Linked DNA regions of Homo sapiens. The protein of the gene in region 2 purifies or fractionates together with the protein of the main gene of each other region. This does not show direct contact. Each region holds a gene or a part of one and is shown on either strand. Other genes may lie near its edges.

The links. Proteins that work in one complex are often made in the same cells at the same time.
Region 1: the proteins of LRRTM1 (region 2) and PNPLA6 purify together in Homo sapiens (affinity purification with mass spectrometry; 2 studies listed by BioGRID and IntAct, with this or other methods). This does not show direct contact.

What each region holds. Positions count from the first base shown.
Region 1 is NC_000019.10:7,545,717-7,549,216, reverse strand, and holds part of PNPLA6 (patatin-like phospholipase domain-containing protein 6), read right to left. Parts: intron 1-3,500. UniProt on the Homo sapiens protein: Phospholipase B that deacylates intracellular phosphatidylcholine (PtdCho), generating glycerophosphocholine (GroPtdCho). This deacylation occurs at both sn-2 and sn-1 positions of PtdCho.
Region 2 is NC_000002.12:80,301,039-80,306,797, forward strand, and holds LRRTM1 (leucine-rich repeat transmembrane neuronal protein 1 precursor), read right to left. Parts: upstream 3,715-5,759; 5' UTR 3,114-3,714; exon of another isoform or gene 2,958-3,113; intron 2,841-2,957; 5' UTR 2,782-2,840; coding exon 1,213-2,781; 3' UTR 840-1,212; downstream 1-839. UniProt on the Homo sapiens protein: Exhibits strong synaptogenic activity, restricted to excitatory presynaptic differentiation, acting at both pre- and postsynaptic level.

The DNA.
Region 1 (3,500 bases), on a different chromosome or scaffold from region 2:
AGACTCCGTCTCAAAAAAAAAAAAAGAAAAAAAAGAAACATGAAGGAGAGAATAAAGACTTTGGATATAAGCACCATCTATATATAAATATAAATAAATATAAAAATATTTTTTAGCCGGGCGCGATGGCTCATGCCTGTAATCCCAACACTTTGGGAGGCCTGAGGCAGGCGGATCACGAGGTCAGGAGATCGAGACCATCCTGGCTAACACGGTGAAACCACGTCTCTACTAAAAGTACAAAAAATTAGCCAGGCGTGGTGGCGGGCGCCTGTAGTCCCAGCTACTTGGGAGTCTGAGGCAGGAAAATGGCGTGAACCCGGGAGGAGGAGCTTGCAGTGAGCCGAGATCGCGCCACTGCACTCCAGCCTGGGCGACTGAGCGAGACTCCGTCTCAAAAAAAAAAAAAAAAAAAGAAAAATTTTTTTACATAGATTATATATAGATGAGCAGCATCTCTCTCTCTATATATATATGTGTGTATATATATGTGTGTGTATATATATATATATGTTCCATATACCCAGGATTCAACCAACCTTGGATCTAAAATATTCAGGAAAAAAAAATTGCACCTGCGCAGACCATTTACAGACTATTTTCCCCGTTTTTCCCTAAATAATACAGTATAATGACTATTTACATAGCATTTACATTGTATTAGGTATTATAAGTAATCTCGAGATGATTTAAAGCAAGCTTGTCCACCCTGCTGCCCACGGGCTGCACGTGGCCCAGGATGGCTTCGAATTTGGCCCAACACAAATTCATAAACTTTGTTAAAACATTATGAGATTTTTTTTTTTTTTTTGCGATTTTTTTTCTTTTAGCTCATCAGCTATCTTTAGTGGGGTTTTTTGGTTTGTTGGTTTTGAGACGGTGTCTTGCTCTGTTGCCCAGGCTGGAGTGCAGTGATACAAACTCGGCTCACTGCAACCTCTGCCTCCAGAGTTCAAGTGATTCTCCTGCCTCAGCCTCCCAAGTAGCTGAGATTAAAGGTGCCTGCCACACGCCTGGCTAATTTTTGTATTTTTAGTAGAGACGGGGTTTCACCATGTTGGCCAGGCTGGTCTTGAACTCCTGACCTCAGTGATCCAACCGCCTTGGCCTCTCAAAGTGCTGGGATTACAGGTGTGTGCCACTATGCCCAGCTATAACTGTTAGTGTATTTTATGTGTGGTCCAAGACAATTCTTCCAATGTGGCCCAGGGAAGCCAAAAGATTGGACACCCCTGATTTAAAGTATACTGAAGGGGCTGGGTGTGGTGGCCCACAACTGTAATCCCAGAACTTTGAGAGGCCTAGGTGTGAAGATCGCTTGAGCCCAGGAGTTCAAGACCAGCCTGGGCAACATAGTGAAACCCTGTCTCTACAAAAAAAAAAAAAAAAAAAAAAAAAAAAAAAATTTTTAATTAGCCAGGCATGGTAGCATGTGTCTATAGTCCTGGCTACTCTGGAGGCTGAGGCAGGAGGATTGCTTGAGCCTAGATGTTTGAGGTTGCAGTGAGCTATGATAGCGTCACTACACTCCAGCCTAGGCTACAGTGCAAGACCCCGTCTCTAAAATAAATTAAAGGCCAAGTGCGGTGGCTCACGCCTGCAATCCCAGCATTTTGGGAGGCCAAGGCAGAAGGATCGCTTGATAGTTTCAGCCCAGGAGTTGGAGACCAGCCTGGGCAACATAGTGAGACCCCCGTCTCTAAAAAAAGTAAGAGTAAAATGGGCAAAAGATCTGAATAAAAACTTCTCCAAAGAAGATATACAAATGGCCAATAGGCACATAAAAAGCTGTTCAACGTCAAGTCATTAGAGAAATGCAAAGCAAAACCACAATGACATACTACACTTCACACCCACAAAGATGGCTAGAATTACAAAGGGTTAGAGAGAATGTAGAGAGACTGGAATTCACATACACTGTCAGTGGAAATGTAAAATGGTGCCGCTGCTTTGGAAAACAGTCTAGCAAAGAAACAAACAAACACACAGTGCTTAAAAAAATTAAAAATAGAGGCTGGCCATGGTGGCTCACATCTGTAATCCCAGCACTTTGGGAAGCTGAGGTGGATGGATCACTTGAGGTCAGGAGTTCAAGACCAGCCTGACCAATATGGTGAAACCGTGTTTCTACTAAAAATACAAAAATTAGCTGGGCGTGGCAGCGTGTGCCTGTAATCCCAGCTACTCAGGAGGCTGAGACAGGAGAACTGCTTGAACCTAGGAGGCAGAGGTTGCAGTGAGCTGAGATCGCGCCACTGCACTCCAGCCTGGGCGACATAGCGAGACTCCCTCTTAAAAAAAAAAAAAATTGAATTGGCTTATAACCCAGCAATTCAACTCCTAGGTATATACCCAAGAGAAATGAAAACATATGTCCAAGCACTTTGGGAGGCCAAGGTGGGAGGATCACTTGAGCCCAGGAGTTTAAGACCAGCCTGGGAAACATAGTGAGACCCCACCTTTAAAAAAATAAATAAAATATATGTCTACACAGAAGCCCTTACATAAGGCCGGGTGCAGTGGCTCATGCCTGTAATTCCAGCACTTTAGGAGGGTGAGGCAGGCGGATCACCTCAGGTCAGGAGTTCAAGACCATCCTGGCCAACATGGCGAAACCCTGTCTCTACTACAAATACAAAAATTAGGTGGGCATGGCCAGGTGCAGTGGCTTATGCCTGCCTCAGCTTCCCGTGTAGCTGGGACTACAGGCATGCGCCACCATGCCTGGCTAATTTTTTTTGTTTGTTTTTTGTAGAGACTGGGTTTTGCCATGATGCCCAGGCTGGTCTCGAACTCCTGGACTCAAGAGATCCTCCCGCCGCGGCCTTCCAAAGTGCTGGGATTACAGGCGTGAGCCACTGTGCCCAGCCTAAAGTATATACTTTAAATGGGTAAATTGTATAGTACATGAATTATAGCTCAATAAAACCATTACACCCCCCCAAAAAATATTGTTTCACTTGAGGCCCACTGACTTCCTTTTTTATTTCTTAGAGATCAACCTATTTCTTCCCACCACACAACATTTGCACAAGCTCTTCCTTCTGCCTAGAATGACCTTTCCTCCCACCTGCACCCAGTTTGTTCCTCCCCCTCCTTCCTTCTTAGGTCATGCCCTTAGAGGTGCCACCCTGTCTAAGCCAGACTTTGTAGTGCCAAGATCATTTCCTTTGTGACACTAAGCACTTATGATTTTACAAGAATTTGTGTAATCCTTTGAGTCATGTCTCTCAGAATACGGTGGGCTGCCCAAGGGCAGGGACCACTAAGGGTTTTCCCTGCCCACTTTTTTTTTTTTTTTTTTTTTGAGACAGGGTCTCACTCTGTTGCACAGGCTGGAGTGCAGGGGTGCGATCTCAGCTCACTGCAACCTGTCTCCTGGGTTCAAGTGATTCTCCTGCCTCAGGCTCCCGAGTAGCTGGGACTAGAGGCGCCCGCCATCGTGCCTGACTAATTTTTGAATTTTTAGTAGAAATGGGGTTTCACCATGTTGGCCAGGA
Region 2 (5,759 bases):
CTCAGAAATATGCAAACACAGGATCAAATGAGTATCTTCTCCCACTCTCCCCACCCCATCACTGCTCTGTCACCTCTGCCCCTAAAGTCTCTTGCTACAAGTCATTACCCTGCAGGCATTCATCCTAAGGTAGGTTTTTCTCCTCATTCCCCATAGAAACTAGGAATGTGCTGTCACTGTTTGGGAGCCTAAGCTTGCTGCAGTCTTAGCAATGTGCTCCAGAAGCACAGCTTTCAGCCCTAAACATCGGGATTCTGCCTCCTTCCCCTCAGCCAGACCAAAGAGAGCAGTGAGCTGAGGGGCTCCCTTTAACAGGGGGTACAAGAAGGGCACAAATGCTACTAAGTCTGGTGAATCAAAGACTCAGGAGAATTAAGAACAGGTGGCATTTGGGGATGAGATTTTGAGGTGATTTGAAAGATGGTTACATTAAGTGCAAAAATGTTTCGTGTTCCTAGGAGAAACTGTCTGGCATTGCTTTTTAAAAACCATTTGCAATGCTCTCTGCTTTAAAGGCTGAGTAAGGGTGCCCAGTCCTCAGTCCACCTCTCAGTTGCCTGAAGGTGGTTAGATTGCACTGTCCCTGCCCCAGTAATATAAAGGGTCTTGCAGTTTTTCTTTTTCTAGTCCTTACACATGTGGAGTAAATTAACATAAATCATTAATCTGATAAGCTTTCTTTGCCCTTCTTTAAAATTTCAAATTGAATCTGACTACGTTGCTCCTGGATTTTCCTTCTGGCCCCTGGACAACTCCCTCCCCACCCACCAAGGAAATTTTAACTGTTGCTTTTCTTGTAACACAGGTAACAATTCATTTAGGTTACACCAGTCTGTAAAAACTGTAAATGCTATTTTATTTTAAACATTTTAGTTTACAAAAAAAAAAAAAATCAATGATTGGTACCTTTTTTACACTCTCAGATTCCTGAATATGGACAGATCTTCAAAGGGAGGAAGGAGTTCTCATATGAAATTTAAGATAGACTGTCCTGAAGGTTGTGGGGTGGGGTTTTTTGTTGTGTTTTAATTCGCTTTTGTTTTTAAGACACAATAAAGCTAAAATGTCAAGTCTCTGGGAGAGATCCCCTTAAAGTTTCAGTCAAGGAGCATATCAGAGCACAGACAAGGAGACCCCAGCCTGGTGCCCGCCGGCCCGTCCCGGCTGCCCAGGCGTATTTGGTAGCGCATGGGTTGAGAGCCACTGGGACAATCACACCTCGCATTCCCTCGCGGGCTGCTGGTGGCAGGTACACGAGCCATACTCGTTGATGATCACCAGGGCTCCCTCAATGTGGTTCGGTTTGTAATCAACGTAGTATTCCTGGGCAGACATGGCAGCCATCTGATGCATGGTCTGTTTCTGCTTTTGCTTCCTGCGCTGCGTGACAAAGCACTGTCTGAGCTGCCTGAGGCTGGCTGGGAAACACTTCCAGGACACGTAGAGCACCAGGACCACGATGAGGAAGGAGAAGATGAGGGCCATGGTGCCCGTGACCACCTTGTGGATCTGCACGGCGTTCTCGGCGTGCTCGCCGCCTGGAAGAGCCACGGTGGCAGGCTCGAATGTGCCGTCGTGCTGCCCCTCCCCGCCGTCCGCGAGCGTGGTGGCCGAGCTGGCAGGGGGCCCCAGATCACTGCGGTTGGTGACGGCCGAGAGCAGGTGGCCGCTGGTGGGCTCGGCCCCATCCTCGCACAGGTGGAAGGCGTACACGGCGTCCAGGACGTCCTCGCCCTGTGCGTACTCCGGGCTGGCGCACTGCAAGTTGCCATCGTAGCGCCCCTGGAAGTTGTTGAGCCACGAGGCTAGGGCACACACGTTGCGCCCGCAATCCCACAGGTTCCCGGCCAGGGTGATGCTTGTCAGGGACTTCCAAGAGTTGAGGATCCGGGGCTCGATGTAGGTGAGGCGGTTGGAGTCCAGCTGCAGGGACTGCAGGTGCGGCACGGTCTCGAACACATGGGGCTCCATGTACTCGATCTCGTTGCCCGACAAGTCCATTTTCTCCAGGTTCCAAACCCAGTCCAGCGAGCTGACCACAATGGCCACCTTGTTCCTCCGCAGGCAGAGCGAGTGCAGGGAGATGAGGCGCGGGAAGTGGGCGAAGTTCACCTTGACCAAGTCGTTGTGCTCGAGGTGCAGCTCGGTGAGCTTAAACAAGCCGGCGAAAGAGTTGCGCGCCAGACTCTTGAGCTGATTGTATCCGATGTCGAGAAACTTGAGGCTGCGGCAGTCCTGGAAGATGCGCACGGGCACAAACTGGATGGCGTTGGCCCGCATATGCAGCGTGGTGAGCTTCCGCAGCCCGTGGAAGAGGTCGGGCGCGAGCGCCTGCAGCTTGTTGTACGAGAGGTCCACGCTGCGCAGGTTGGGCATGGGCCGGAAGGTGGTGTTGGGCAGTTGGGTGATCTGGTTGGAACTCAGCGTGAGTTCCTTAACTCGGCGCAGTTTCTGAAAGGCGTCCCCCTGCACGGAGCAGATGTGATTGTGATCCAGATAGAGCCACGTGAGCTGCATTAACCCCGTGAACTGGCCGGCGCGCAGCTCCGAGAGGCTGTTGTAGCGCAGGGACAAGCCCAGCAGGCCGGACAGGTTGTGGGGCGCCTCGGTGAGGTTGAGCGCCTCGCAGTACAGCAGCCGCCCCTCGCACCGGCACAGCTGCGGGCACCCGCTGGGGGCGGCGGGCAGCATCTGAAAGCAGGCCCCCAGCAGACACAAGACCACCCCCGAGGGCCTCCTCAGCAGCCAGTATAGACAGAGACCGAGCAGCAGGAAATCCATTAGCGAGAATCTTTCCAGAGAGACTGGAGAATGTCCATTGGAAGCGCTCGGTCAGAAATCTACATCATATTTTATTCCGAGGGAGGGGAAGCGGGGGAGGGGGAGAAAAGGGCAAAAAATCAAATAAATACATAGAAATAAAGAAGGACCCCCCTCCCCAAAAACCACACGTTCACCTCTAAGCATGCAGAAAGCTGGGCAGCATAGAAAGTTCACAGCCACGGAAAGATCAAAGAGATGGTGATTTGGTCCATGTTAGATGCTGCAGCAAAGAAAAGGGAGGAAAAAAAAAATCTTCGGGAAAGAATTTAATTAAAAAGTGTCTTACCCACCCTTTTCCAGAGAGTGACAACCTCCATTCAGCTGCTCCCTTTGTGTGCAGGCTAATTATATGCAGGGCGAGAGAAGACCCCTCTGTGTTTCCGAGGCAGCCCCGGTCCGCGGCCGGCGGATCTGGCAGGCGCACAATGTCTCACTTTGCTGCTCGGCTCGGGGCTGCAAGGGCGGCCGGCAAGGCGGGGAGGCGACTTCTAGGACCCGCAAGTTTCCCAACTACGTGCCGGAGCCCGAGCTTCGCCTTCCTGCCGCCTTCCTTTCCCTCTGCAGTTCGGACTGTGACGTTGTGGGGGGAAAAAACTCCAAACTCGGGGCTCGCGACTCCCCAGGATCTGACAGTCTGGTTAATGTCCGTCATTGGAAACGACCACTGACCGGCGCCACCTTTTACTCCGCGGAAACAGCCTGCCATTCGCGCCCCGGGCAGCTGCAGAGAGCGGGCTCACTCATGCTTTGCGGGCGGCGGGCGGCGGGCGGCGGGCGGTGGGGAGGTGCGGACGGCGGCGCGGGGAGCGGCGAGCGGCGCCCGGGCTCCTTCCCTCCACCAGGCAGTGTGCGGCGCGAGCTTGCACAGGCACCTACTGCTCACTGAGTGTCGTAAGCTGCTCACGATTGTGCGTCTTCCCCGAGCACCTCAGACATGGGCAGATTGAAAAGGGGTGGGCATAAAACCAACATTTTACCGAACCACTAAAGTAATATATGTTTTTTGATGAAACGGAAAACACTTTCAGCTTTTTTGTCCATATTTCAAAAAAAAAAAAAAAAAAAAAAAGGAGGGGGGAGGGAGGTGGAGGTAGGGGTAGCATCATCCACGACAAGATATTTCCAAGTGGGAAACTGAAATGTTCTGTGCTCTCCCCCTTGCCTTTTGGGGATATATTCTTTTCCCCTTTAAAACTGTCTACGTGTAAGAGATACGTAGGAATCTGTAGAGAAATCAACGTTTGGACCTTTGCTTTAGAAAAGCAACTTGAGAGAAGACACAGGAAGGCAATGATTTGGGGCTTGGCTAAGATTTTTGGGGTTTTTTCCCCCTCTTGCGGGTACTGGAATTCTGCAGTCAGCCAGCCCTTTTTTGAGGTGGAGAGGGGAAATGCTTTCCAAACCCACCTAGTTTGGGAAGCCATCCAAGTCCCGGTGGTGTGAGATCCAGTGTGGCAAAAAGGTATGTCTGTGTGCAGGGAGACTTGACTGAGATCCCTCCGGGGCTTCATCAGGCTCCACAGATACATATGGGGTACAGAGTGGATTAAAGAACGATTGTACTGTCTGACATGGGGAGGGCTTACCCTGACTTGTGCTGTTCATGGTGATTACTGGGCCCTGCAGTGCACCCCACTCCAAGAGAGTGTGAATGTGTAGGGACGTGATAGTTTAAGCCATAATGAAGCCTACCCGTCTCCATACACACATCCTAATTAATCTTTGAGACTGCACTAAGTTGTGCCACTTTTTCCTCTGAGTATGACGAGAAGCCTTTGCCTCATTATTTCTATTCATAATCATTTATAGATAGGAGTCCTTACAATGAGCTCTCCCCCCACCTCCCCACACACACACCTTGTGCCTACTGGTCTGTAGAGGGTCTGCCCTGGGGAGGGTCAGTTGGTCATCTGTTTAAACAAAGTCCTCCAAGATGGCTGAGAAAGCCTGCGGGAAGTGAGTGTGGGCAAGCCTTCCTTCTTGACAAAGATGCCCAGGGAGATGGTAGGGAGAGTCAAATGTGAGTCTCCAGCTCCACTGTTTGAATTCCCATCGTTTCTGCCTCTAAGGAAGTCAAAATCAGTAGGCATTATATGTAGTGGCACTTACTTTGATAGGAATGAGGGTGGATTACCAGAGCCAGGGTAGATAGACTGGACAAGTAACTGGATTGGTCCTTAGCATCTAAGCTGAAGAGGCCAACCAATGGAATCAAAGTCACCAAAGACTGGTGGTACTTTTCAGGAAAAGTCATATGAACAGGGGCATGAATCATTCCATTTTGTATTCATCTGAGCTCTGCCCTGGTCATTCATCTCTGAGATGTATCATTTAATTGGAAGGAACACAAATCTGAAATGTCCTAGACATCACATGCTGTCTTAGGAGTTAGAAGAGACATTAGAAAATCAACCCCCTTAATTTTGCACGTGACTAAACTGAGGCCAAGAGACATCATGGTTTATCCAAGGTCATACAGCTTGCAACTGGCACAGATGGTTTTTTCTTTCTTTCTTTCTTTTCTTTTCTTTTCTTTTCTTTTCTTTCTTTCTTTCTTTCTTTCTTTCTTTCTTTCTTTCTTTCTTTCTTTCTCTCTCTCTCTTTCTTTCTTTCTTAATTTGCCATTCTTGATGATTGCCTCTCTGTCACTCTTGCTGCCTACCTAACTCTGGATCAGGCATTTGCATGTTTCATCCTGGCACCTCCAAGGTGCTGCGGAACACTTTAACAGACAGACAAACAAATTCACCATCAAGTGGTTTCACCTCTTGCCAAGACAATTATTCGTGACAGCAGGCCAGCTGATGGAGCCATAAACTCTAAAGGGTTGGGAGGTGGGGGAGGGGTGTTGAGGAGGCACCCGCAGGGTTAAACAGCGGCCAGCCATTCAGCGAGTACTGTGAGTACACACCACCCAATCCCTAGGGTTGCTAGGA